Homo sapiens: one gene and its partners. The protein of the gene in region 1 purifies or fractionates together with the protein of each later gene. This does not show direct contact. Each region holds a gene or a part of one and is shown in the gene's direction. Other genes may lie near its edges.

Region 1 (3,500 bases):
GGTTCCCTAGGTTCAATTTGATGGTATTTCTTGTGTGTGCCTTTGATCTGCCACTTGGTCACTCCGTAAATCCAAGCCTCTACAAATGTCAAGGTAAGGTTTTCTTTCAATATGGTAAGGCTTATCTATCAAAAGGTTTACATTTCTCAGTTTGCTCATTTAAAATGAGTCTTTCAAGATTGAAGATATTTCCATAGTTGTACAAAAGGATAACGTAGCCAAGACCCTGTTGTCTCCAGGCCAGGGAGCCATGTTCTTCAATTCACAAAGAAAACCATATAAGGGTATCTCTGTGTAGCTAATATGCTATAGTTGATTATTTTTAGAGAAACATGCCAAATGCTAATAAATGATTAAGTTCTTTAAAGGGTGTTGACAGATAAAGCCTGAGCTGAAATAAGATTCAAGATGTAATTTATGATGTGAAACATTCTCTTTCAGGACTTTGCACAGTTAAAAAGAAGTTGGTTATGTTTGGGAGATAGCTGAATGTGGTGTGTGGGTATACCTTAGCCAACAACTTCTCTAATTTTAGACTTTTTATTATTTCCAAGGCTTTTATTTTAGAGAGTTATTTATCCTTCCCTGTAGGGCCTCTGGTGAAAATGTAAAGGAACAAGAAAATGGCCAAAATGTGGTGGTGGATGGGAGAGAGGGAGAGAGAGAGGAGAAGGCGTGAAGGGAGAAGATAGAAGAGGATCATTCTTGAATCAGAAATTTATTAGCAAAATTGATTGAAGCATTTCTCAAGCAAGTCTCCCCTTTTGAGGCTCAAAACTGCACTCATGCCTGCTGACCTGTGTCTTTTCCCCACTTCTGTCTTCTTCAGTTTCATTGTAGTTTCCAGAAAGGAGGAAAACTATCCTCAGAATGTTTACACTGTACGCTGTCTTCTTCCCACTCACTCAGTGTGTTCAGCCTATTTTAATGAGCTTTCAGATTCCATAGTAATCAGACATTTTCTGATCACAGCTTATTAGTCTCCCATAAGATATTCCACAGATAGAATTAGGCTTAGGTATGGCATGAAGTTACTTAATAAGGTTTGTTGAATTCATGTAGTTTGCAAGTCTCGTTCTGAGCCAGGAGGCCCTCAGGTTCTCATTCTTCTGTGTCTTCAGATATCACCAGTGATCTTAGAAGATCCAGCTCAGATAAGTGAACTAATAATAGGCCAGGTTTGTGAATGGGGTTTGTTATTTCCCTTAGTTGGATCTTTTCAAAATATGTAATATGTCGGTGATAGTTTTAAAGCTCAAACTATGGATATATTTTTAAATTTAGATAATAAAAGAGTACAATCAATTTCTTTCCTGGCCTGTTACAGACTCAGAAATAAATTTCTGGTAGGAAAATATATTTGAGGTAAACTTCAATTTCTCTTAAGAAATATTTTTAAAAAATTGTTTTCTATCTCTATGTTTCTCTTAGAGATTTTGTTTCAAGAACTTTAATTCATTTTCATAAGCCATTGTTCTATTTCAGCAAGTTAGAGGAATCTTTCCAGAGCTGTGAAAAGGCCTCTGTTTTGTGGATGTGTGTGAAATAGATTCCCATGGACAGAACCGCTGCCTTGCACAACTCTAGGGGGCACTGTACTTATTGTAATCTATTGAGATGGCACCCCTGGGGGATAAGCTAACATTATTTCTGACCCACATATTTCTAACTCACATAGGCTAATCTTTAAGTGATTAAGGGCATTCTGATGGATGCAGGGTAGAACTTGTAATTTATATTTGTCCTTCAGGGCACGGTGCACTGTATGTCAAGAAGAAAATATTTCCATGCACTTGATCAGCATATTGACTCCAAATTCAAAGCTTACTTTGAACTATTTCTTTGTGTATTAATACAGAAAGAGTTCTGGCATGGAAGTCCTTTAGTGAAGGTGCCCTATCTCATTAAAACTCTAGTTCAAACACAGAAAAACTCTTAACTACTACAGGAAACAGAGACAAAAACAGAATACACCCTTTCCTAAAGTTGTGAAATGCAGCCATTCCATTATTTTCCTTTTTTGACTCTTACTGTGAAAACATTTATATAATGCCAGTCGTTTAAAGAAACGTTCACAACTTATCACAGGATGGAATAGACTGCAGTCTGGCAAAGTAATCTTGGTTGTCCTCTTAATTACACCACTCACTCATCCTCTAAAACAATCATCTCTTACAATGCTCCTATGTTTACTGCATCTACTTCCACGAAACTTAACAATCCTCTCCACAGCTGAAGCTCTTCATAGACTCCCATTACATAGTGAGAAACAGTAGGTTCTGTTTTGTATCAGTCATTGCCTTGACAAGTTTGAGTAGGAGAGAGAGGGTGGGAGAGGAATTTTTGTCGTTACCTTTTCCGCCCTGCATGGAAGAGCAGAACTCCAACAAGAGTCCAGCCCACTCTCAAGCCTCAATTCTAGAGTTTCTGACTCTATGTGCCAAGAAGACCTGATCATCAGTACTAGAAAATATAAATAGTAAATATACAGTCATGTCAATTATCTAAAGAATATATGTAGAGTATGAGAACTGAAAAGCTCATGACAAATGTTTTGTCATAGATGATTTCTGCCGTGTGATCAAATTCATTCATCCACTCATCCGTTCATCGTTACTTAACAAACATTGAATGAGTGACCACTGTGTGCCAATCACTGTACTAGGCATTATAAATGTTGTAGAATATTCTGAAACAAATAAACAGTTAAAGCTCAATGTACATTTGTAATTTAATAAAGTAGAAAAAGAAAATGCTATCTATGTTTAATGAGGTGAGTGAACATTTGCTTGTACAAGATGGTTAACTTTGACATTTCCTGACTTTATGGGGCTTGACTCCTTTTGGCATTAACAGGGGTGTGTGTTAACAGGATTTTTTTTCTTCATTTATTATCTCAAGTATGTGATTTTTAATTAAAAAGAGAAATGAAACATGTAAATCCCCTGGTTAGAGAGATTTTGTAGGATTCACTTCACAAAACCCTCAAATAAGTAAAGAATATTTGTTTCTTATTCATGCTATTTATCCTTTTAGAAAAATTTTAAACTATAATATCAAAATGACTTTATAATGTAATAGAATAATTTATTTGGATTCTCTTGCCTTGTTTCTTTCTCAAGCAGCTGTTCCAAGGTAAAGTTATAAAATCACGGTCTTTCTTGAGTAGAAATCTTTTAGCCAGTATGGCCACACCTTTTTTCAATCTAGTGTTTATTTATTTGTGTTTATCATCCAAAAGAAATGTTCTAGAGAAGCAGTATAAGCCTTAGGGTAAAATGGGTCAGCACAAACATAGGCTATCATTTTGTCAAATGGATACCATATTGCCAGCAGGACTTAACACTAACAACAGCTATTCAGTTAGATGAGACATCATGATATGAAAACCAGTGCCAGTTATGTGAGTATTGCCAACTGGCTCATATTTGATCAATGTTAGGTAACATATATTCAACTGAATTTTAAACAGGATTTAAAATTTTAATTTATGTGGAAGC
Region 2 (3,500 bases), on another chromosome or scaffold:
TTAATCTTGGGGTTAGCTTAAACAGATGATCTTGTACTATCCCTTAAGTGAATGTAAATAAGGACACATCACTTCATCTATCTTCTCTCTAGCTGACAAGTTTCTTTGAGGTAGAGAGAAGGAGGAAAAAAAATGTCACTTAGGACTATCTCTAGAAACAGCACATATCCGTCTGTTCCTTATCCTCAACCCCAAAAAAGTGTTTTACTTTGGTCACAAAAATCTAGTTAGGTGTTGTAGGCCCCTGTAAATTTAATTATTGGGAAATGTTTATAATTGAGACAAACATGTCTAATAATTGCTTACTTGGTTAATGATAACATTATGAATTCTTAGATGGTGACTTTTAAATTCTTTTGTTAAAATTTTAAATGTATTATGATTTTTTCTGAAATTCTGTTTTTATCTAACATTTAATTTTAAGGCCCAGAAGCCTTACCTGGTACAACGGAGAGGAGCTGAATTTGCTTTGACAACTATAGTAAAGCATTTTGGTGGTGAAATGGCAGTGAAGTTGCCACATCTCTGGGATGCTATGGTTGGCCCATTGAGGAATACAATCGACATAAATAATTTTGGTATACACATATTTTTATGAGTCCAGTTTTTAACAAATTTTAATGTCTATTAATTGAATATATCCTTATAAAATAAAAATGCCTCTATGCCTCTACCTGTTTATTCCAGACCAGCTGGTAAGTTTTAAAATGGAAACTTGGTTTAAAAAAAACACACACCTTTATTTTATAAAAGAGATATTTGGGTTGGGCATGGTGGCTCATGCCTGTAATCCCAGCACTTTGGGAGGCCCAGGTGGGCAGATCACTTGAGGTCAGGAGTTTGAGACCAACCTGGCCAACATGGCAAAACCCCATCTCTAGCAAAAATACAAAAATTAGCTGGGCGTGTAGTCCCAGCTACTCTGGAGGCTGAGGCAGGAGGATTGCTTGAACCCTGGGGGTGGAGGTTGCAGTGAGCCGAGATTATGCCACTGCACTGCAGCCTGGATGACAGAGCGAGACTCTGTCTCAAAAAAAAAAAAAATTGTTTTTAAAGAGATACTTGAAATGGATCACTATGTTTAAGTTCTTTGGTTGCTCTACATGTAGTACCCCAGCACTTAAATTAAGGTCATGGCATTTAATTTTAACACTAAGAAGCAAAATTGACTCTCCTATGCTAGCTGAAAAAGTGCTAAAAGTTTTTGTGTGCTCTAGATTTTGAAAAATTATTTGCCAGATAATACAGACAATATATTTTAACAGATGGAAAATCCCTCCTGGATAAGGGAGATAGCCCTGCTCAAGAATTGGTGAATTCTCTGCAGGTTTTTGAAACAGCAGCAGCTTCAATGGATTCTGAGCTTCATCCCTTGGTAACTAACTAATGCAAGTGTAATATTTCTTCAAATAAAACAAGTGGTCTTATTAAAAAGTCTTAAGGTTTGAAAGGTACAGCTTTGATGTCATCCTTATTAATTGCATTTTTCTTTGCTGTGGTATAACTAGATTCCTCCTTTACTAACAGTGCAACTCCTGTGGGCTTTGATGTAGACCAGGCTGCTTGAATTTAATAGAAAACCCAACCTGGAAGCTTAGAATGTGGGGGCATTGAGGAAAGGACTCTGATGACACAGGAGCCAGATGTAAATAGGAAAGAAAACTGCAGCCCTGTTCATCCAGATGATCCTAATAATACAGCTCCAAGAAAGGAAAAGCATATATAATGAAATCTGTTTCCTAGATAAGTACAAAGGTGAAAGGAGTCACCTGCCTAAGGTGAAGCTGGTCAGTGGCAAAGATAGAACACTGGTTTGGGATTTTTTTAAAAAACTATTAAAATGTTTCTTACAAAAGAATTAGGACAGAGGGAGGAGGAAAATAGAGAATTATCTGGTTTTTTTCATAGAAGAATATTATTCTTTTCATATCTCTGCAATAGGAAGCTGTCTGCAATTTACCCCATTTTGAAGGGTATTAGCCCAGTTCTCTATTGTTATTTAACACAAAAGGGAGAATCTATGAGAGGGTGGAGAAGAATGGATTTTTTTTTTTGTACATAGTAATAAAGTATGTCCTTTTACTTGTTAAAAGTTTTGCTGATTTACTGTTAGTAAAGAAAAGTAGGCCGGGCGTGGTGGCTTACACCTGTAATCCCAGCACTTTGGGAGGCCGAGGTGGGTGAATCACGAGGTCAGGAGTTCAAGACCAGCCTGGCCAATATGGTGAAACCCCCATCTCTACTAAAAATACAAAAATTAGCCGGGCGTGATGGGACATGCCTGTAGTCCCAGGTACTTGGGAGGCTGAGGCAGGAGAATCACTGGAACCCGGGAGGCAGAGGTTGCAGTGAGCCAAGATCGCGCCACTGCACTCTAGCCTAGGCGACAGAGCGAGACTCAGTCTCAAAAAAAAAAAGAAGGAAAAAAAAAAGTAGAGTCCATCTGTACGCTCTTAATCTTCATAATTAGCAACATGCATTCAGCTGAACTGTAAGGCACATCAAACTGTTGAACAGATACCTGGCTCTCATCAGCATTAATTCTGGTGTTCCTTGTAGCAGACATTTAGTAAGGTGCTGTTGTGATGCTGTTGTGATTATAACACCTATGGTAAGCCAGGAAGCTACAGTGGACGATACCTACCAAAGTATGGTGCTAGAATAAAATCAGGAACACTCAAGCCACTGAATAAAAATTATGTACCTAAATCTAAATTAGTGCTACCAAATTTGGAGGGAGCTGGTGATGTGTGGTGCTGTTTTCCAGCTTCAGTAGGAGAATCTTGCCAAGTACTTTTTGGTTTGTTTCCTGTTAATTTTGGAAAGAATTGAGTGTTCCTATATGCCTAAGAGATGATATGAGCAGAGCAGAGGTTCTATACCTTTTTTTCCCTTCTTTTTGAAAGAGTTGTAATACATTAATTTGTATTTGGATTAGTTTTCTATTGAGAATGTTTTGGCAGTAATGTTTTGAAGTATTTGGAGATATTTTTAGAGTCACTTAGAATATTGAAAACTTTCCTGAGTATGGGCTATTATAGTTACATATTAAACAGTATTTCCTAATAATTCTAATTGCCATTAACTTTTTGTTTTTAGTTGGTCCAGCATTTGCCACATCTTTATATGTGCCTTCAATACCCCAGTACTGCAGTGAGGCACATGGCTGCTCGTTGTGTAGGTGTCATGAGCAAAATAGCTACCATGGAAACAATGAATATTTTTTTGGAGAAGGTTCTTCCGTGGCTGGGAGCAATTGATGACAGTGTCAAACAAGAGGGTGCAATTGAAGCACTTGCCTGTATCCTTTTTCATTTGACAAACTGTTCAGGAATTATATTCATTTCACTTAAGGATAATTAAAATGAAATTGATGTGTTCTAATATGCACATAAATAACCTGCCTTGTTCCAAAAAATACCTATTCTTTTTACATCTTATTTTGAAATATTTTTGTATTTTATTACAAATGTGTTACAAACTGATTTGCATTTTATGAT
Region 3 (3,500 bases), on another chromosome or scaffold:
TGGCCCCAGATGCTTCTTAGAGTCTTTTTAAAAAAAATTATTTGAAATTGCTTTATTCAAAGAAGCCTCAATTTTTATTATTTATTTATTTATTTTTGAGACAGTCTCGCTCTGTCACCCAGGCTGGAGTGCAGTGTCACAATCTCAGCTCACTGCAACCTCCACCTCCCGGGTTCAGGCAATTCTCCTGCCTCAGTCTCCCGAATAGCTGGGATTATGGGCACCCGCTGCCACGCCCAGCTAATTTTTGTATTTTTAGTAGAGATTGGGTTTCACCATGTTGGCCAGGCTGGTCTCGAACTCCTGACCTCAGGTGATCCACCCATCTCGGCCTCCCAAAGTGCTGGGATTACAGGCCTGAGCCACCACGCCCTGCCAAAGAAGCTAAAATTTGATACAGATTGTTAATGAGCTTTTTCTACACTCTGGGTTGCTAAGTCTTGTTCAGTGATGATGAAAGCGTAAAAACTCTTGCCTCATTTGGAATCAAGGGGAGTAGTCGGCTGCTTTTCTCGTGAAGTGTGTCTCTGTTAGCATTGTACCTTCCAAACCGCATCACCATGAATATTGATGTCTCGAATTTTTTTCTCCAGGCAAACTCTGTTTGCTAGTGCTGACACTGCTTATGTCCTAGCGTATTCAATTATTATGCTGACTACAGACTTGCACAGTCCTCAGGTAAAGCACTTTAATGATTTACATGTTGTATTAGCTAAATAAGTGGCTTTACTTGGGCAATTGGATGTTTTTTAAATGGTTTTTAATTTTTTTTAATTACAGGTAAAAAATAAAATGACGAAAGAGCAGTATATTAAAATGAATCGGGGTATCAATGATAGTAAAGATCTGCCAGAAGAGTATCTCTCAAGCATCTATGAAGAGATAGAAGGCAAGAAAATTGCAATGAAAGAAACAAAAGAGCTAACGATTGCAACCAAATCTACTAAGCAGAGTAAGGTCTAATGGCAAATTATTTCTTTTAGTTCTAATTTTTTAGTGTATCAGAATGCATGATTAAATACTCTGGTGATAAATTTAATGTGCATAGCTGGATATCTGAATAGGAAATGTGATTGAATTAATTATTGTGATTATGTTGGGACTTTTATAATGTCACTGTCTTGCTAGATTTCTGATGAGGAGCAAGAAGGAATTTAAAATTAGTAATCTGAGAACTAAATTACTCCCAAAAAGTGTTCTTTAAAACTTTTCTTTAATTCAGATTGTGTCCGCCTTGATTAGAATTCTATTAGTTATGGCCCCTGGGGAGCTGTCAGTTTCACTGTTTGAGAAGCAGCAAAGGGTAGTGGTTTAGAGTGTGGCTCTAGAGCCACACTGCCTTAGATCAAGTCCCAGCTCCTCTACTTAGTAATTGTATGACCCTGGGCAAGTGACTTACCCCCTCTGCCTCATTTTTCCCATCTGTAAAATGGTAATAATAATATTTGTAATGGACTCACGAGATGGTTGGGAGGATTTAGGAGTTAATCATTGTGCATCTTTTGAAACAGTGTATGGCATGTAGCCAGCCCTCAGTGACTGCTAGCCACACCTATCATGCTCTTACTTTACAGATGTAGCTAGTGAAAAGCAGCGGCGGCTGCTGTACAACTTAGAGATGGAGCAAATGGCTAAAACAGCCAAAGCTCTGATGGAGGCTGTGAGCCATGCCAAAGCCCCGTTTACCAGTGCCACTCACCTGGACCATGTCCGGCCAATGTTCAAAGTGAGTATCCTGAGAACTTAGCAAGCATGTGGCTAAGCCTGATTCTGAAGCTGGCCAGCGAGAAGTACTCTTTCCACGCTAAAACTCTGGATGTTATTGAAATCTTCCTTCCATGATAGCTGGTGTGGACGCCACTATTGGCAGCCTACAGCATCGGACTCCAGAACTGTGATGACACTGAAGTGGCCTCCTTGTGTTTGGAAGGCATCCGATGTGCAATCCGAATCGCCTGCATCTTTGGAATGCAGGTAGGTGTAAGTCAGCAACACTCCAGAGATACTGGTGGGTTGTGCTCTTTTAGATTTGGCAAAACTTAGAAATTATCAGAAATTTTCAGTTAATCAAGACTCTTAGCAAGCTACTTACTTATGCCTACTGACAAGAAATCCGTAGCTTTGTGATGACAGCTCGTTAGGGGCAAAAATGGAGATACGGATTAAAACTGTCTTTAAGAATGGGTAGGCTGGGCACAGTGGCTCACGCCTGTAATCCCAGCACTTTGGGAGGCCAAGGCAGGCAGATCACCTGAAGTTGGGAGTTCGAGACCAGCCTAACCAACATGGAGAAACCCCATCTCTACTAAAAATATAAAATTAGCCGGGTGTGGTGGTACATGCCTATAATCCCAGCTACTCGGGAGGCTGAGGCAGGAGACCGGCTTGAACCCAGGAGGTGGAGGTTGCGGTGAGCCGAGATCGCGCCATTTTACTCCAGCCTGGGTGACAAGAACGAAACTCCATCTCAAAGAAAATAATAATAATAATAATAGGTAGGGTCCAAGCTTCTTGACTGGATTTGACAAAGCAGACTTCGTGTTCATCTGCCTAACTTGCCTGCTTTGGTGCTTAAAAATACTATTTCCTTTTTAACATCAGTTTTTATTATAATTTCGCATATTTCCAACTCTTCCCTGGAGAAACAAGTAGTTCAATGCAATATGAATATGTCTGTAAACCTTTGAAACTTGAAAAGTTCAAGCAAATAAATGAAATGTAATTCTGAAACTGTTACGAAATTAGGAGGTTGACAATCCCATGCATCACTTTGTAAGTCAGAAGTTGCACCCCATTTATTTTTAAAAACTCAATCTTCTGTTCCTATTCATTTTACAGTTAGACATTTTCTTTTATACCAAGACCACAAGCTTTGACGTTAGACCATCTAGGTTTCAAGACCCCACTCTGCCACCTCTCCAACCATGTGACATTGGCTCAGCTAAAGTCTCTCTGAGACACCAATTCATTTCCTCATTTGTAAACTTGAGAAAACAGACCTGCCTGGCAGAATTGTTGCAGATGTCAATTTGTGTGACAGTCTTAGTATTCAACAGACATAGTGGAACATGGGACAGGTGAGTTTGACTGAAGTCAATTAGAAAGGAGAGAGCTGCTTCTCAAACATGTGGCAGTGCATAGATACCTCTGCAAGATGTTCCAAAAGCAAGAGGGCATTAGCATGGAATAACTGTTGTGCTAATGTGCAGAAAGCCAGTCAATGTGCATACAAAAAGTATCAGAGAAGCCCAGTGTGCCAGCCCTGCAGATGTGAGAATGGCCACACTAAGGTTGGAGTCACAGTGTTCTCTCTTGGGTTTCTGTTACAGCTGGAACGAGATGCCTATGTTCAGGCTCTTGCTCGCTTCTCCCTACTCACAGCCAGCTCCAGCATCACAGAAATGAAGCAGAAAAACATCGACACCATTAAGACGCTTATCACAGTGGCTCACACCGATGGCAACTACCTTGGGAATTCCTGGCATGAGGTACGTGTCTCT
Region 4 (3,500 bases), on another chromosome or scaffold:
GGGGAATCTGCAGCCTCACTGAACATGGAAGTCTTATCCTCTGCCTCTGTGTGTGAGGCCTTCCCACCATTTTGACTGTGTCTTGGCATTCCCTGTCTTATTTGTGTTGTAAATAATTTTCTCTTTGGGCATTATCTCAGATGTCCATTTTATGCTTACTATTTAATGCCCTTATTTGACATTATCTTGGGCGTTTAATAAACTGAATGTATATTATGGATGCATTGGTAGGTAGGGTTTTTGTGTGTGTGTATTTACTTGTTTGTTTTCGAGACAGGGTCTCACTCTATCACCCAGACTGGGGTGCAGTGGTGTGATCATGACTCACTGCAGCTTCGACCTCTGGGGCTCAAGTGATATTCCCAACTCAACCCCCTGAGTAGCGGGGACCACAGGCTTGTGCCACCACAACTGCTTAATTAATTTATTTTTTTATAGAGGGGTCTCACCAGGTTGCCCAGGCTTGTCTCGAACTCTTGGACTCAAGTGATCCTCCCAAAGTGCTGCGGTTACAGGTGTGAGCCACCATGCCCAGCCTATAATAAATTAGGCTGAGTGCCTGCCATCTTGCAGTTTGCACTTTAGTTAAGAGATAAGTGAAAAAAATATTTTGTTTTGTGGTAGAAAGCGTGTTCCAGATAAAGGAACAGCTCATATGAAGGCCTGAGGTAGGAGAAAGAGAGGATTTTAAAGGGTTAGAATGGAAGTCAGGTTGGTGAAAAGTATGTACTGAGTGAGAAAGGAAAAGGACTAAGGACGTAAAGGCCAGGTGATATCACCCATGATAAGAACATTATTCTGACCAGTACCAATAACTTTGTACTTATTACAGATAATCCACACTCATAAACTAGTCTTACAATGCCTCCAAACCAGAGGTGAAGCTGTCATTATAAAAGGTTAGAAACAGAAAAGTGGGTGCTCTGGAAAATTCAGAATATTTCCCAAGACTTCATTTCATCATGGTCTCCAAGATTATTTGAAGACTTCTATTCAAAAAAAGGACCCATTCTTAAAAATTCCCTAATTCTGCACTAAGTCTGCCTTTTCTTCTATTTTCGTATAATTTTTTTTTCCTTTCTTTGACTCCCATTCAGACTTGGAGAAAGTATAGCAGCAAACAATGCCTATAGACAACAGGAAACAGAACATATACCCAGAAAAATGCCCTGGCAATCATCAAATCACAGTTTTCCAACATCAATAAAGTGTTTAACTCCTCATTTGAAAGATGGTGTTCCTGGATTGAATATTGAAGAATTAATAGAGAAACTTCAGTCTGGAATGGTGGTGAGTGAAAAAATAGCAATTATAACCTGGTACATATTAGCTATATGTCAGTCCCAATTATAACGTGTATCTAAACACTGTCAGGTACAGATTTCACTATTGAAACCTTAATATAAGAAATAACAATATTCTGGAAAATTTGGAAATAAGAAAAATCAGTCAAAATTTCAACATTTTGCCGGGTGCGGTGGCTTACGCCTGTAATCCCAGCATTTTGGGAGGCCAAGGAGGGTAGATTGCCAGAGCTGAGGAGTTCAAGACCAGCTTGGGCAATATGGCGAAACCCCGTCTCTATTAAAAATACAAAAAATTAGCTGGACGTGTTGGCTCATGCCTGTTGTCTCAGCTACTCTGAAGGCTGAGGCAGGAGAATCACTTGAACCCAGGAGGCAGAGGTTGCAGTGAGCCAAGATCATACCACTTCACTCCAACCTGGGTGACAGTGAGACCCATCTCAAAAAAAAAAAAGAAATATTTGTGACTTACCTGATGTAGCATTTGTTTTTATTTTGTTACTCATCATTAAGTTTTAATGATTTAGTTTTGAAGTAGGCATTTATTTTGTCATTGTGTCAAAATATTTTATTAAAATTTTAAGTTTTTTTACTCTTAAAATGTAGGTAAAGGATCAGATTTGTGATGTGAGAATATCTGACATAATGGATGTATATGAAATGAAACTATCCACATTAGCTGTGAGTATAAGCTTATTTTAACAATGTGTAATAAGCTTTAATAGATGTATTCCTAAAATGAAAATTAATGATATGTTTTCTTGTAGTCCAAAGAAAGCAGGCTACAAGATCTTTTGGAAACAAAAGCTCTAGCCCTTGCACAGGCTGATAGACTGATTGCTCAGCATCGCTGTCAAAGAACTCAAGCTGAAACAGAGGTGTGTAGAATATAAAGACACATCTGATTTGTAGAAAAATTAATAAGTAAAACATGCAAAATATTAGTTATGTATTTGTTACTCTAATTGAAGTAAATTCTCCTTAGCATTTGACATGCCTCCTTCCTTCTTCCTGAAATTCTGTCCTCTTTAATTTTGGTTACATCGTTACCTGATTTTTTTTTGCTACCTTGTATTATTTTCCTATGTTATTTATTTTGTACCTTTAAGTGTTGGGGACTCTGGGACTTATATTCTAAACCTTTTTCCTTTAGTTATGTGTTCTGTGGTTTCAATGGTTACCAAAATAGTAATGTTCCTAATTTTATATGTCAAGCACAGATCATTTTCCTGAGCACTATGTGCCTATGTTGCTCCATTTAAATATACAGCAAATACCACAAACTCAGCATAACCAATAATGAACTAATCACCCTTCCCTTTTTAAAATTATTCTTATGTATTCCCTCTTCTGTTTTTAGTGTTCTACAAATAAGAACCCTGGAAATCACAGTTTTTACCTCCTATAATTATTCACCAAGTCCAGTTGATTCTACCTTCTAAATATTACTCTTTTCTGCCCTATCTCTGCTTCTACCACTATTTGTTATAGGCTGGATCCTTTTCATTTTTTGTATGAATCATAGCAGAGCAATTAGTCTTCCTACCTGTAGTCTTCTACCCTCTTCTCAGATACTCTACAGCCAGTCATCTTTCCTTGGTTCTACCCCCTTCACCTAGCCGCTCCCCCAAGGATCTCTAAGGCAGTAAAATGATCCTGTCCCTCTTGTGCTGAGTATCTTTCACAGTAGCTGCTATTGCTTTCAAATATCATTAAAATTCTTTAGTTTGGCATATAAGGATTCTAACTATATAGGCCTCAATCCACATCTTTCATTTCTGCGCATTCTTTGCAGTCAGCCATGTTAGGCCACTTTGCTTTTTCTGAAACTTGACATATTCTCGTATTTCCTTGTCGTGGCACTTGACTTTCCATGTCTGGAACACCATTTCCTCTCTTCTGCCTAACTCATAATCCTTCAGATTTCAGTTAAAATATCCTCATTACCCAGAAGCCTACTCTGGTCTCCTTCCCACACGTGTTTGACGATCCTTCCTCTGTGTATCAAACCTACGCTTATCTCTTAATAACATTTTTCAAACCACGTGGAAATTCTTTTTTCCCTCACTCATGGTATCAAAGACTGCTTCTATAGCTCCAGGCCCTAGCATAGCACTTGGCACATAATAGGTGCTCAGTAAATTTGGCATTGTATTATGTACATATATAATGTATACCTTAAGAGTGAACTTACTG
Region 5 (3,500 bases), on another chromosome or scaffold:
AAGTGCTGGGAGCATAGGTGTGAGCCACTGCGCCCAGCTTTATGTGGTTTTTTTTTTTTTTTTTTTTAAGGTGTACCAGTTTCTGATTTTTTGTTTTCATCTTCAAATAAAACTTAAAAATAGTACTTTATGTTTTACCAATTTAATGAATGCTTTTTTCAATTTGTTATTTGTTGAAATGTTGTTTTGGTTGTGATGTTGTATGGTTTTGAAATACTCATTTTTATGTTGTCAGTTTTTACCTTCATATTATGTTTGATATACAGGTTATATTTTAATTTTTGTTAATTTTATATTTAATCCTAACTCAAGACTCATAATTCACTAGCTTGTTAGAAAGGATAAATTATTTTTCCAGAATTTCGAAATGGCTAAAATAGTCATATTATCCTTTAATGTTAATGTTCTGTAATAGCTATCAAGATTGATTTAGAGCATTGTTATGAGAATGAAACAGAATTAGGCCTTGGTATTTTAAGTGAAAAGCTTTTTAATTTGGGCCATATTTTTGGACAGGAAACCATTTTTGGTGCCTATATGATGTATGATGTCAAGTTTTAAGAGTTTGCCATATGTCTGTTAAGATAATACAAGGCGTTTAACTAGGAAGAGTTGCCGTTTTTAGATAGTTTTTCCCCATTATCTGTAGGAACTATAAATAAAAGACAGTTAAAAAAACTTTTAGAACTTTTGCTTTTGTAAAAAACCAGAAGTCTTTCATCTGATGATGAGACATTTAAGTTGGCATTAGAAAATTTTGTAATACTTTATGTAACCAATTACAGATTTTTTTGGACACTGAGATTCTGCTTCTGTAGGTACTGTTTACCGACAGTAAAATATAAATTCTTAGATCTAGATATCAAAAATTATTTAAGTTGAGATTACTATTTTTGCACAGCAAATTCAACTTTGCAAAAATGAATTTGAAAGGAAAAACTTTAAGAAATTTCTTGTCAATTTGTAGATGTCAGATTCTCATTACAAAATTATTATAATATTCTAATTTTTAAAAATTAGGTTTATTTCACTCCTTATTGTCCCTCAGGGGGCGATAATGAGGGTAAAATGAGATAAATATAGATATACTTTCAAAAATGTTATACACACTCAAATTATAAATGAGTTGAGCACCGGGCACAGTGGCTCACACCTGTAATCCCAGCACTTTGGGAGGCCGAGGCGGGTGGATCACCTGAGGTCAGGAGTTCGAGACTAGCCTGACCAACATGGAGAAACCCCATCTCTACTAAAAATACAAAATTAGCCGGGTGTGGTGGTGCATGCCTGTAATCCCAGCTACTTGGGAGCAGAGGCAGGACAATCGCTTGAACCTGGGAGGCCGAGGTTGCAGTGAGCTAAGATCGCGCCATTGCACTCCAGCCTGGTCAACAAGAGCGAAACTCCATCTCAAAAAAAAAAAAAAAAAAAGCTGAACGTGGAGAAAGCCCAGCTATGAAAACCTAAATTTGCAAAACAAAATTAAGATTGTTTTTACATGAAGATTCATTTTATGAGAATATTCACTTCAGAGTTTCTGTGATGTGATTTTTTCATGGGTCTTAAATTATATATCTATTCCAGAAGATACAGTTTATGTACAACTTTTCAGGAGAACATATGTGAAGACAGCATACTTAAGATATAGCTGTTGTTCCACATACATACATTATAGGTCCTCGATAAATTATTAAAAGGTTGATTTTTTTAGAGCCCCTATTATGATAGGCATAATATCTTATATTACAGCAATAGACTTTTGCTTATTAGTGCAATTTGATAAACCATTGATAGTAGCTAAAATTTTTTCTTCCCTCTCTCTTCCAGTCTATATTATTTATTTTGTCAATCAGAGGATCCCAAAAGTTTTTGATTCACAAGTCTGACTTTTCATGAAAGTTGCACTTTGGCCAGAGGAATACCTCCAGTTCTATGTTCTATTTATTAAGCAGGCAGGGCCAAACAACTTAATGGATATTTGTCTTCACAGCCTACTATGTATTTCAAAGACAATAGTATGCATAAAGTAAAAGAAAAATAATGTTTTTATTTTATTCTTTACCGCAATTACTTACCACTGGGATGCGTGTGCCTATTAGAAACTGCACACAGCTTCTTAGATCTTGGAATTGAATACTGTCCCCCTCATTCCTGTACTTCATTGATTTTCATTCAGTACTTGGTTTTTTATCATAGCAACTACCAAAACCCAGCTTTGCGGAGATAATTATGTCATTGAAGGGAATGTAGTGTGATTTATTTGAAACCATGAGCAATCTTTTGAGGTATCCAACAGATGTATCTCCCTCTGAATTTTGCCTCAGAATTTTTTCAGGGCACCCTCATGAGTTTGCTACAGCATTCTGGGGTACTTTGATGCAGTTTTTGGGAATTGTGGCCATGTTGCCATAAGTATTTATTGAACACCTACTATGTGCCCTGCAATATGGACGTGATCTTTATCAAGAAAGACCTGGTCATTACTGTCTTCAAGCTTACAGTCTATAGGAGATACTGATATTAAACAAGTAAATAGAAATATGCTGAGTTTTGTGAAAGAAAATCACATTACAGGGGTACCTAATCCAGTTAGGGGGAGATACTATAAATGTGATTTTCTGGGTTCATAATGCATATGTTTCATAAATGTTAATATGTTGGTTGTTTCAGTCATTCCTTCTTAAAGTCACTTTTATAGAATACATTTAAATCTGAAAATTCTTATCTGTTAAATTGAAATTTATCTCATTAGGTTGATTAACTCACTGCTTGATTATTTGGTGTAAAGAGTAGTGAGAAATAGTTCATATGTAGTTTTCAAACAGTAGAGATTTTCACTTTTGTGAGTAATTAGAAAAATAAAACCGTATGAGACTTAGATTGTTTTTATTGTGTTGATTAGAGTATCAGTTACATTTAAATCTACGAACAGTTAGGCCTCTCAGTACTAGAACGTCTCTGAAAAATATAACTGATGAACAGAAGTATAAATTACGCTTTTGGAGGGGGATTAAAAAAGCGTAAGTTATATTCTGTAAAAATGTTAAAGAAATTATCACCTAGAGGAACTCTAAATCTTTGCATATTTCTTTTGTAGCAGCTGTGTTGAGAACAAAACACATCAATGTGAATTGCAGTACTGATAACTAGAAGGGCAAGTTTAAGTCACTTACCCAAGATATTTTAGTCCTGAGGATTCAGAGATGGAACTCAAAAGGAGTTGAACTCCATAAGAGCCTGGGTCCTAATACCTGCTCTATAGCTCTGGGATGTTTAAAAAGTGATCACACATATGAATTCTAAACAATATTTTAAACAGAAGTTTTCTCCTAATCACAGGTGTTCTTTAAAGAAATTTTCTTATACATTTTGGAAACTTCTACCAGCTCATTTGATCACAAATGGATGGTTATTCAGACACTGACGAGGATTTGTGCAGGTATTTTAAATTATCCTTTTTATTATCTCTTTCTTATTATTAGATATTTAAAAGGCCAAAT
Region 6 (3,500 bases), on another chromosome or scaffold:
GGTGGTAATTTAGCCAGGAGGTGGAAGACATCTCTCAGCTCTGCCTCTTACTAGTTGTGTGATCTTGGCAAGTTACCCAACCTCTTTGTACCTCAGTTTTCTCATCTGTAAAATGGGGGAAATAATGGTATCTACTTCAGAAGGTTTTTTTGATGACTAAATTGAGTTGAGAAATTTAAATTGCTTAGAAGCATACTATTAAGAGAGTAGTATCCATTTTAAAAAATTAGGTGTTGGCCACTTTCAATTTAAGTGGATTGAGATGAGAACTAGATTAGAGATCTATCAGGGAGGGAACACTTCAGCCTTCTCAGTCTCAGTTGACTCAGAGTAAATGATCCAAGAAGTAGGAGATTATAGTAGGAGAGGATTACAAAAAGGGGCTGTGGAAGGTTGTATTTTTCAGGATGGTCACAAGATCTGCCATCCTACATTGTGATGTTTATGCCCCTCCCATAGGAAGTAGGTTCTGTGTTCACTTCTTGAATCTGTACAGGCCTATGACTATAGAAGTGATGCTATGTAGTGATTTGCAAGGTTAGGTAACCTCTTGGACTCTAGCAGCCATGCCAAGAGAAAGCCCATGCAGCCCTTTGAAAGAACCAAGGCCCTTTGCCCTTGGCTCTGGCTGAACTCCCAGCTAACAGTAAACACCAACTTGCCATCTTGGAAGACTATCTTCTAGCCAAGTTGAGCAGCCCCAGCTTATTTCATGTGGAGCAGAGACCAGGTTTCCCTGCTGAGCCCTCCTCCAATCAGATTTGTGAACAGTATGATTATTGTTATTTTAGGCCACTAACTATTTGAGTGGTTGTTAGGCAGCAATAGATAACTGTAACAGAGGCCGATCAATTTCTTACCTGCACCAAGATCTAATAGCCTTCTGCTGGTCTTAGTGGAGACAGTGGTAGAGGTAGAGGTTGATGCTTAAGAGTAATAGAGTTCCATTTAAGTATTTTATGCTTTGGAGTTCTCCAGTCCAAGCAACTTGGAAGTGAACTTTTGGAATAAGCAAGTCATTAAATTGAGGACAGTATTATAGACTGCACATGTGTGTAATTAATCTAAAATACTGAGTCCCTGGTGTTCCCAGGAAATTAGATAGTTGAGGTGTGTGTGTGCCCACATGTGTGAGAGAGATTTGAAAGAGTGATTGATTGCCTTGTTCTCTTAAAAGTGGATTGCAATTTCATGTAACACCGTGCAAATAAACATAACCTACAAATTAAACGAAAGTTCTAGTTGAGTGATAAATAATTTAAAAGTTTGATTGTCAATAGTTTATGTATATATATATTTTTAAAACTTAGCAAACTTTTCTGATGTTACTTCCTTGAAGCCGAAATTTGAAAATGAGAAAATATAGTTATTTACATATCTTTGCTTATTCAAGTTATAATAAACGAAAGAAGCAAATGATTCTTTCACTTGTTTAATTTCATTTCCAAGGTGTCTATTAAATGCCTGTAAGAATATTTAACGTGTGTATTTGGCAATACACTTAATTTGATTTGAAATGCTAATGGCAGATTTTATTAAATATTTAAAGTAATTTCACAGTCTATAAATGTTAAAGGCACTATAATAGAGTGGGAAAAATATCTGGGTTAGAATCCTGGTTTAGTACCTTGATAAGACTTAAATTTCATTTCCTCAGTTTCTTTATTTATAAAAATGAGATGAAAGAGCTGGGCTGTGATGATATTTAAAGAACATTCTTGCATTACGAATTTTAAATCTAATTATATGATTCTGCTGAGACTAGTGTAACAGGAATTGTAACATTTGTTACCTTTCCCTTTTGGACATAGACATAATATATATAACTTTACTGTTCGAAATGAGATATATTCTATCCTGGAAAAATATTTTGCTTAAGAGAATCTAAAATATTTTGTAAGATTCTAAACTACCATCGTTTAAATAGTCTTCAAAACAATTTTGATAACATGATTAATTGGCTAATTTCATAGTTTAAAGGGCTTCAAGATTGAATGTTAACATTGACTAATTTTAAAAAGTAAAATTATTTATTTTGTAGTGTTTGTGCAAGTAGTTTTCAAAATACTTTTTCAAAGTTTGCTTTAGTTATATTAGTGTCTTAATGAGCTTTATTTTTCTACCTTTTCATACTACCTTTGAAATCCATTTTGCTAGCCTGAGACAAAATATTTTGTGGTGCTTTTTTAAAAACTCAGTATTCAATAAATATAACTTATTTATTAATATACAGAAAACACGTAAAGAATCTCACTGAAAAATCAAAGAAAATGGGGTTAGAAAGTAGAGGCCGAATATTATAAAATTCTTTTAGTTCTTTGTAGTGCCAGAATTGTATTAGGCTCATATTTGGTTTCTGTTAGAATCTTTGATTGATAGTACCATGTAATGCCTGTTCTTTATTTCTGGGTTGTGGGGTGGTGGTCCTGCCTTTTTGGTTTTGGATGTATGGATCAAGAGCATGACTTTCAAGACCCTCTGCAGGGGTTTCAGCCATGGCCCCAACTAGCTAGTGTTTTGGTATGCTCGGCATTGTTCTGTTGACTACAGCTGGAAAGCAAGAGAAATGTATGACACAGCATCCCCTTGCTTTCAATTTAAGTATGGAGAAAAGAGTGAAACTTATGAAAATGATTCTAAATCAATAAATGACAAAATGACAATTAGTAATGTTCTGTGTTGGGATTTGAATTTTTAAGCTTCATAGGGGTTTAAGAGTGGAGAAATTAATGGAGACCATGTAAGGAAGGAACCCTTCAAAGAAGAAACGGGAATAGAGCCAGGCTTTGAATAATGGTATAGCAGTGTTTGAATTGTTGGAGGAGAAAGGCCATACTTGGTGGGGTGAGTTACCTGGCCACAGGTTAGGAAGCAGGAGTAGCATGGGCTTGAAAAGAAGACTGGAATAGTCTGACGGAAGTGTGGCTGTTTGTTTTGAGGTACAGAGAAATTTGGGTAGGTGGTACAAGATAAGAACCCTAAAGGGTAGATATAAGAGTGTGAACTTGGCTGCATGTGGTGACTCACACCTGTAATCCGAGCATTTCCAGAGACTGAGGCGGGCAGATCACTTGAGGCCAGCAGTTAGAGACTAGCCTGGCCAACATGGCAAAACCCCATCTCTACTAAAAATATAAAAATTAGCCGGATGTGATGGCGCACACTTGTAATACCAGCTACTCAGGAGGCTGAGACATGAGACTTGCTTGAACCCAGGAGGCGGAGCCGAGATTGTACCACTGCATTGCAGACTGGGTGACAGAGTGAGACTGTATCTCAAAAAAAAAAAAAGAAAAGTGTGTGTGAATTTGATAGTGTAGTAGGAATTATATAGGGAAGTTTCTCACTAAAAGGAGGTAGTGTTTTAATGATTTGTTAGACAGTGGTATCCATAATAAATTTAAGGAAAATACATGATAGGCAGTACTTTTGAACCGATGGGTTAGTTGGTTTAACAAGATACAGAAATATCTCTCTGAAACGATCTGAGACTTACTTTA
Region 7 (3,500 bases), on another chromosome or scaffold:
TGGGTGTGGTGGTGGGCACCTGTAGTCCTAGCTACTTGGGAGGCCGAGGCAGGAGAATGGCATGAACTCGGGAGGCAGAGGTTGCAGTGAGGTGAGATCGCACCACTGCACTCCAGCCTTGGTGACAGAGTGAGACTCTGTTTCTGTAAAAAATAAATAAGTAAATAAATAAAACTTGCCAGGTGTGGTGGTGGGCACCTGTAGTCCCAGCTACTTGAGAGGCTGAGGCAGGAGAATGGCTTGAACCCGGGAGGCGGAGCTTGCAATGAGCCGAGATTGTGCTACTGCACTTCAGCCTGGGCGACAGAGTGAGACCCTATCTCAAAAAAAAAAGAAAAAAAAAAAAAAAGGCAAAAAACTACAGTGACAGAAGCAGATCAGGATTTTCCAGGGCCAGTGAGGAGTCAGGGAAAGGGTAATTATATTGGGGTTGATGGGATTTGGGGGTTGATGGAAGTATTCTGAATCTTGATTGTGTTGATGGTTACATGCTCTATATATTTGTCAAAACTCATTGGACCGTATACTTACATGAGTGAGTTTTGTTGCATGTAAATCATACTACAATAGGCCGAGCATGAGAGCTCATGCCTGTAGTCCCAGCACTTTGGGAGGCTGAGGCAGGCAGATCACAAGGTCAGGAGTTCAAGACCAGCCTGACCAATGTGGTAAAACCCCATCTCTACTAAAAATGCAAAAATTAGCCAGGTGTGGTGGTGTGCACCTGTAGTCCCAGCTACTTGGGAGGCTGAGGCAGGAAAATCGCTTGAACCTGGGAGGTGGAGGTTGCAGTGAGCCAAGATCGCACCACCGCACTGTAGCCTGGGCGACAGAAAGGGTCTCTGTCTCAAAAAAAAAAAAAAAAAAAAAAATCATACTACAATAAAACTGCTTATTTAGGCCGGGTGCGGTGGCTCATGCATGTAATTCCAGCACTTTGAGAGGCCAAGGCGGGAAGATCACCTGAGGTCAGGAGTTCAAGACCAGCCTGGCCAAAATGGCGAAACCCTGTCTCTACTAAAAATATAAAAATTAGCTGGTTGTGGTGGCAGGCACCTGTAATCCCAGCTACTTAGGAGGCCGAGGCAGGAGAATAGCTTGAACCCAGGAGGCTGAGATTGCAGTGAGCCGAGATTGCGCTGCTGCACTCCGGCCTGGGCAACAGGGTGAGACTCTGTCTCAAAAAAAAAAAAAAAAGACAAAATAGAAAAACCACATAAATATTCACTTTATTGCCAACAGGAAAACCATCACTTCCTGCCTTATTGTTTAAAAACACAAATTCACCCATATTCAATCACATGATAAACTGGAGGGGCTGCAGTTTGCATGTGACTGAGTGACTTGCCAGTGTGATTATGTTGCAGATGTCAGCAGACACATGTCAAGGGTTAGTCACCAGACATTGCCAAGAAATACGAAAAGAGAATCTGCATGCGATCCAGGCACTAACACAGCAGTACGCTTTTATTTTGCTGGAAGAGCCTGTGGCACAGCCCATGCATTGACATTTGATCTTGTTTCAGCTAAACTAAATGTGTCTGTTAAGATTTTTTTTTTTTAATTTGAGGTAGATTTAGGTATGAGGGGAAAAAGTTTTCAGCCCTTTTCCTGGCATAGACCTTACAAAAGAACTACTTTCTTTAGCTGTGTTTGTTGAGGCCGTTGGTGAGTGTTTGAAATCTTTTTAGTTGGCTTACTGCTAACTGGAAATTTAGGACGGTTGGGGGAATGCCTGACTCAACGTTTTAACTAAGCTCTCTCTGAAAAGGGATCTCCCCAGCAAAATCTGTAGTGCAATCAATTACCAAGGGAGCGGCTGAAAGTGCTTAATATGCTTAAGCTGGCTTCAGAATGCATGTTCTGTATTACAAGGAACCTGGGTGGAAACAAAACAAATTCATCTATATGTTTTGTTTGTTTGTTTTTTGAGCTGGAGTCTTGCTTTGTTGCCCAGGCTGGAGTGCAGTGGCACGATCTCGGCTCACTACAAGCTCTGCCTCCCAGGTTCACGCCATTCTCCCGCCTCGGCCCCGCGAGTACCTGGGACTATAGGCGCCCACCACTACACCCGGCTAATTTTGTTTTTGTATTTTTAGTAGAGACGGGATTTCACCGTGTTAGCCAGGATGGTCTCCATCTCCTGACCTTGTGATCCACCCGCCTGGGCCTCCCAGAGTGCTGGGATTACAGATGTGAGCCACTGTGCCCAGCCCACCTATATGATTTTTATAAAGGGCATATCTAAATCAAAATAATCCAGGAAGTGACAATAAAATAAAAAGGTGGAAAAGTTTATCTTGGACAAATGCTGACAAAATGAAAGTACCATAGCCATATTAGTGTGGGATAAAATAGACTTCATATTGATGAAAGATGTAATCTCCTAAAAGAAATAACAGTTATACCTGCTGGGCACGGTGGCTCATGCTTATAATCCCAGCACTTTGGAAGGCCGAGGCAGGTGGATCACGAGGTCAGGAGTTCGAGACCAGCCTGGCCAACGTAGTGAAACCCCGTCTCTACTAAAAATACAAAAAAATTAGCCGGGCGTGGTGGCCACCGCCTGTAATCCCACCTACTTGGGAGGCTGAGGCAAGGAGAATTGCTTGAACCTGGGAGGTGGAGGTTGCAGAGTTGAGATCATGCCACTGCACTCTAGCCTGGGCGACAGTGTGAGACTCCGTCTCAAAAAAAAAAAAAAACAGTTATGAATGCTTGTGAACATAACTTTAAAATATATAAAGGAAAGCTAAAGGAAAAGTCTGATGTAACACAAGTATATATTGACAAACCACAATCTTGGTGGGAGATTTGAATATATTTCTCATGAGTCAGCAGATCAAGTAGATAGAAAATAAGTATATAAAAGAATTCAATGACACAATTAGATACATGTAATAGAGATTACATACTCTTCAAAGCTTGTAATAAGTCAACTCACAAACACTGATTTTAAGTCCTTCCACAAAGAAAATCTCAATAAAATAGGGATATAATAAGTCACTTCCCTCCTAGGGCGATAATGTGTATAAAAGTGTTTAAGGTATAAAGCCTTAGAAAACATTTGTTCCTTTTAATGCCCTGATGTGTTTTATCCTAGGAACGGCAGCAGTAGGACACACAGACAAGATTGGGAGATTGAAAGAACTCTGTGAGCAGTATGGCATATGGCTTCATGTGGAGGGGTAAGCCGGCGGTGAGGCTGGTGGCTCCATTCGGGCCTGCACAGAGTCCTTATGAGGACTGGACATCCAGGCTCTCACTTTGGTGACATTTATCACGAAGGGCTCTTTGGGTCACAGATCACAAAATAACCCAAATTGGCTTAAGCCCAAAGAGATCTTACTGGCTCACATAACTACAAAGAGCAGTGTTATGACTGCCTCAGGCACGACATCAACCAGGATCCAGTGTGTTACTCCCACCTCTGCTCCCCCAGTCACAGGCACTGGGCTTGGTTTCCTCTATCTGTGGACAGATCTTCCTGTTACAGTGCA

Evidence for each region.
Region 2: the proteins of EDNRB (region 1) and BTAF1 purify together in Homo sapiens (affinity purification with mass spectrometry; 2 studies listed by BioGRID and IntAct, with this or other methods). This does not show direct contact.
Region 3: the proteins of EDNRB (region 1) and ARFGEF2 purify together in Homo sapiens (affinity purification with mass spectrometry; 2 studies listed by BioGRID and IntAct, with this or other methods). This does not show direct contact.
Region 4: the proteins of EDNRB (region 1) and CIP2A purify together in Homo sapiens (affinity purification with mass spectrometry; 2 studies listed by BioGRID and IntAct, with this or other methods). This does not show direct contact.
Region 5: the proteins of EDNRB (region 1) and ARFGEF1 purify together in Homo sapiens (affinity purification with mass spectrometry; 2 studies listed by BioGRID and IntAct, with this or other methods). This does not show direct contact.
Region 6: the proteins of EDNRB (region 1) and EXOC5 purify together in Homo sapiens (affinity purification with mass spectrometry; 2 studies listed by BioGRID and IntAct, with this or other methods). This does not show direct contact.
Region 7: the proteins of EDNRB (region 1) and PDXDC1 purify together in Homo sapiens (affinity purification with mass spectrometry; 2 studies listed by BioGRID and IntAct, with this or other methods). This does not show direct contact.

The regions. Positions count from the first base shown.
Region 1 is NC_000013.11:77,908,832-77,912,331, reverse strand, and holds part of EDNRB (endothelin receptor type B isoform 1 precursor), read left to right. Parts: intron 1-3,500. UniProt on the Homo sapiens protein: Non-specific receptor for endothelin 1, 2, and 3. Mediates its action by association with G proteins that activate a phosphatidylinositol-calcium second messenger system.
Region 2 is NC_000010.11:91,993,270-91,996,769, forward strand, and holds part of BTAF1 (TATA-binding protein-associated factor 172), read left to right. Parts: intron 1-424; coding exon 425-578; intron 579-1,265; coding exon 1,266-1,375; exon of another isoform or gene 1,376-1,388; intron 1,389-3,099; coding exon 3,100-3,301; intron 3,302-3,500. UniProt on the Homo sapiens protein: Regulates transcription in association with TATA binding protein (TBP). Removes TBP from the TATA box in an ATP-dependent manner.
Region 3 is NC_000020.11:48,987,711-48,991,210, forward strand, and holds part of ARFGEF2 (brefeldin A-inhibited guanine nucleotide-exchange protein 2), read left to right. Parts: intron 1-593; coding exon 594-678; intron 679-780; coding exon 781-952; intron 953-1,574; coding exon 1,575-1,726; intron 1,727-1,845; coding exon 1,846-1,974; intron 1,975-3,329; coding exon 3,330-3,488; intron 3,489-3,500. UniProt on the Homo sapiens protein: Promotes guanine-nucleotide exchange on ARF1 and ARF3 and to a lower extent on ARF5 and ARF6. Promotes the activation of ARF1/ARF5/ARF6 through replacement of GDP with GTP. Involved in the regulation of Golgi vesicular transport.
Region 4 is NC_000003.12:108,558,439-108,561,938, reverse strand, and holds part of CIP2A (protein CIP2A), read left to right. Parts: intron 1-1,097; coding exon 1,098-1,290; intron 1,291-1,910; coding exon 1,911-1,985; intron 1,986-2,071; coding exon 2,072-2,182; intron 2,183-3,500.
Region 5 is NC_000008.11:67,267,282-67,270,781, reverse strand, and holds part of ARFGEF1 (brefeldin A-inhibited guanine nucleotide-exchange protein 1), read left to right. Parts: intron 1-3,339; coding exon 3,340-3,439; intron 3,440-3,500. UniProt on the Homo sapiens protein: Promotes guanine-nucleotide exchange on ARF1 and ARF3. Promotes the activation of ARF1/ARF3 through replacement of GDP with GTP. Involved in vesicular trafficking.
Region 6 is NC_000014.9:57,258,906-57,262,405, reverse strand, and holds part of EXOC5 (exocyst complex component 5), read left to right. Parts: intron 1-3,500. UniProt on the Homo sapiens protein: Component of the exocyst complex involved in the docking of exocytic vesicles with fusion sites on the plasma membrane.
Region 7 is NC_000016.10:15,013,026-15,016,525, forward strand, and holds part of PDXDC1 (pyridoxal-dependent decarboxylase domain-containing protein 1), read left to right. Parts: intron 1-3,103; coding exon 3,104-3,188; intron 3,189-3,500.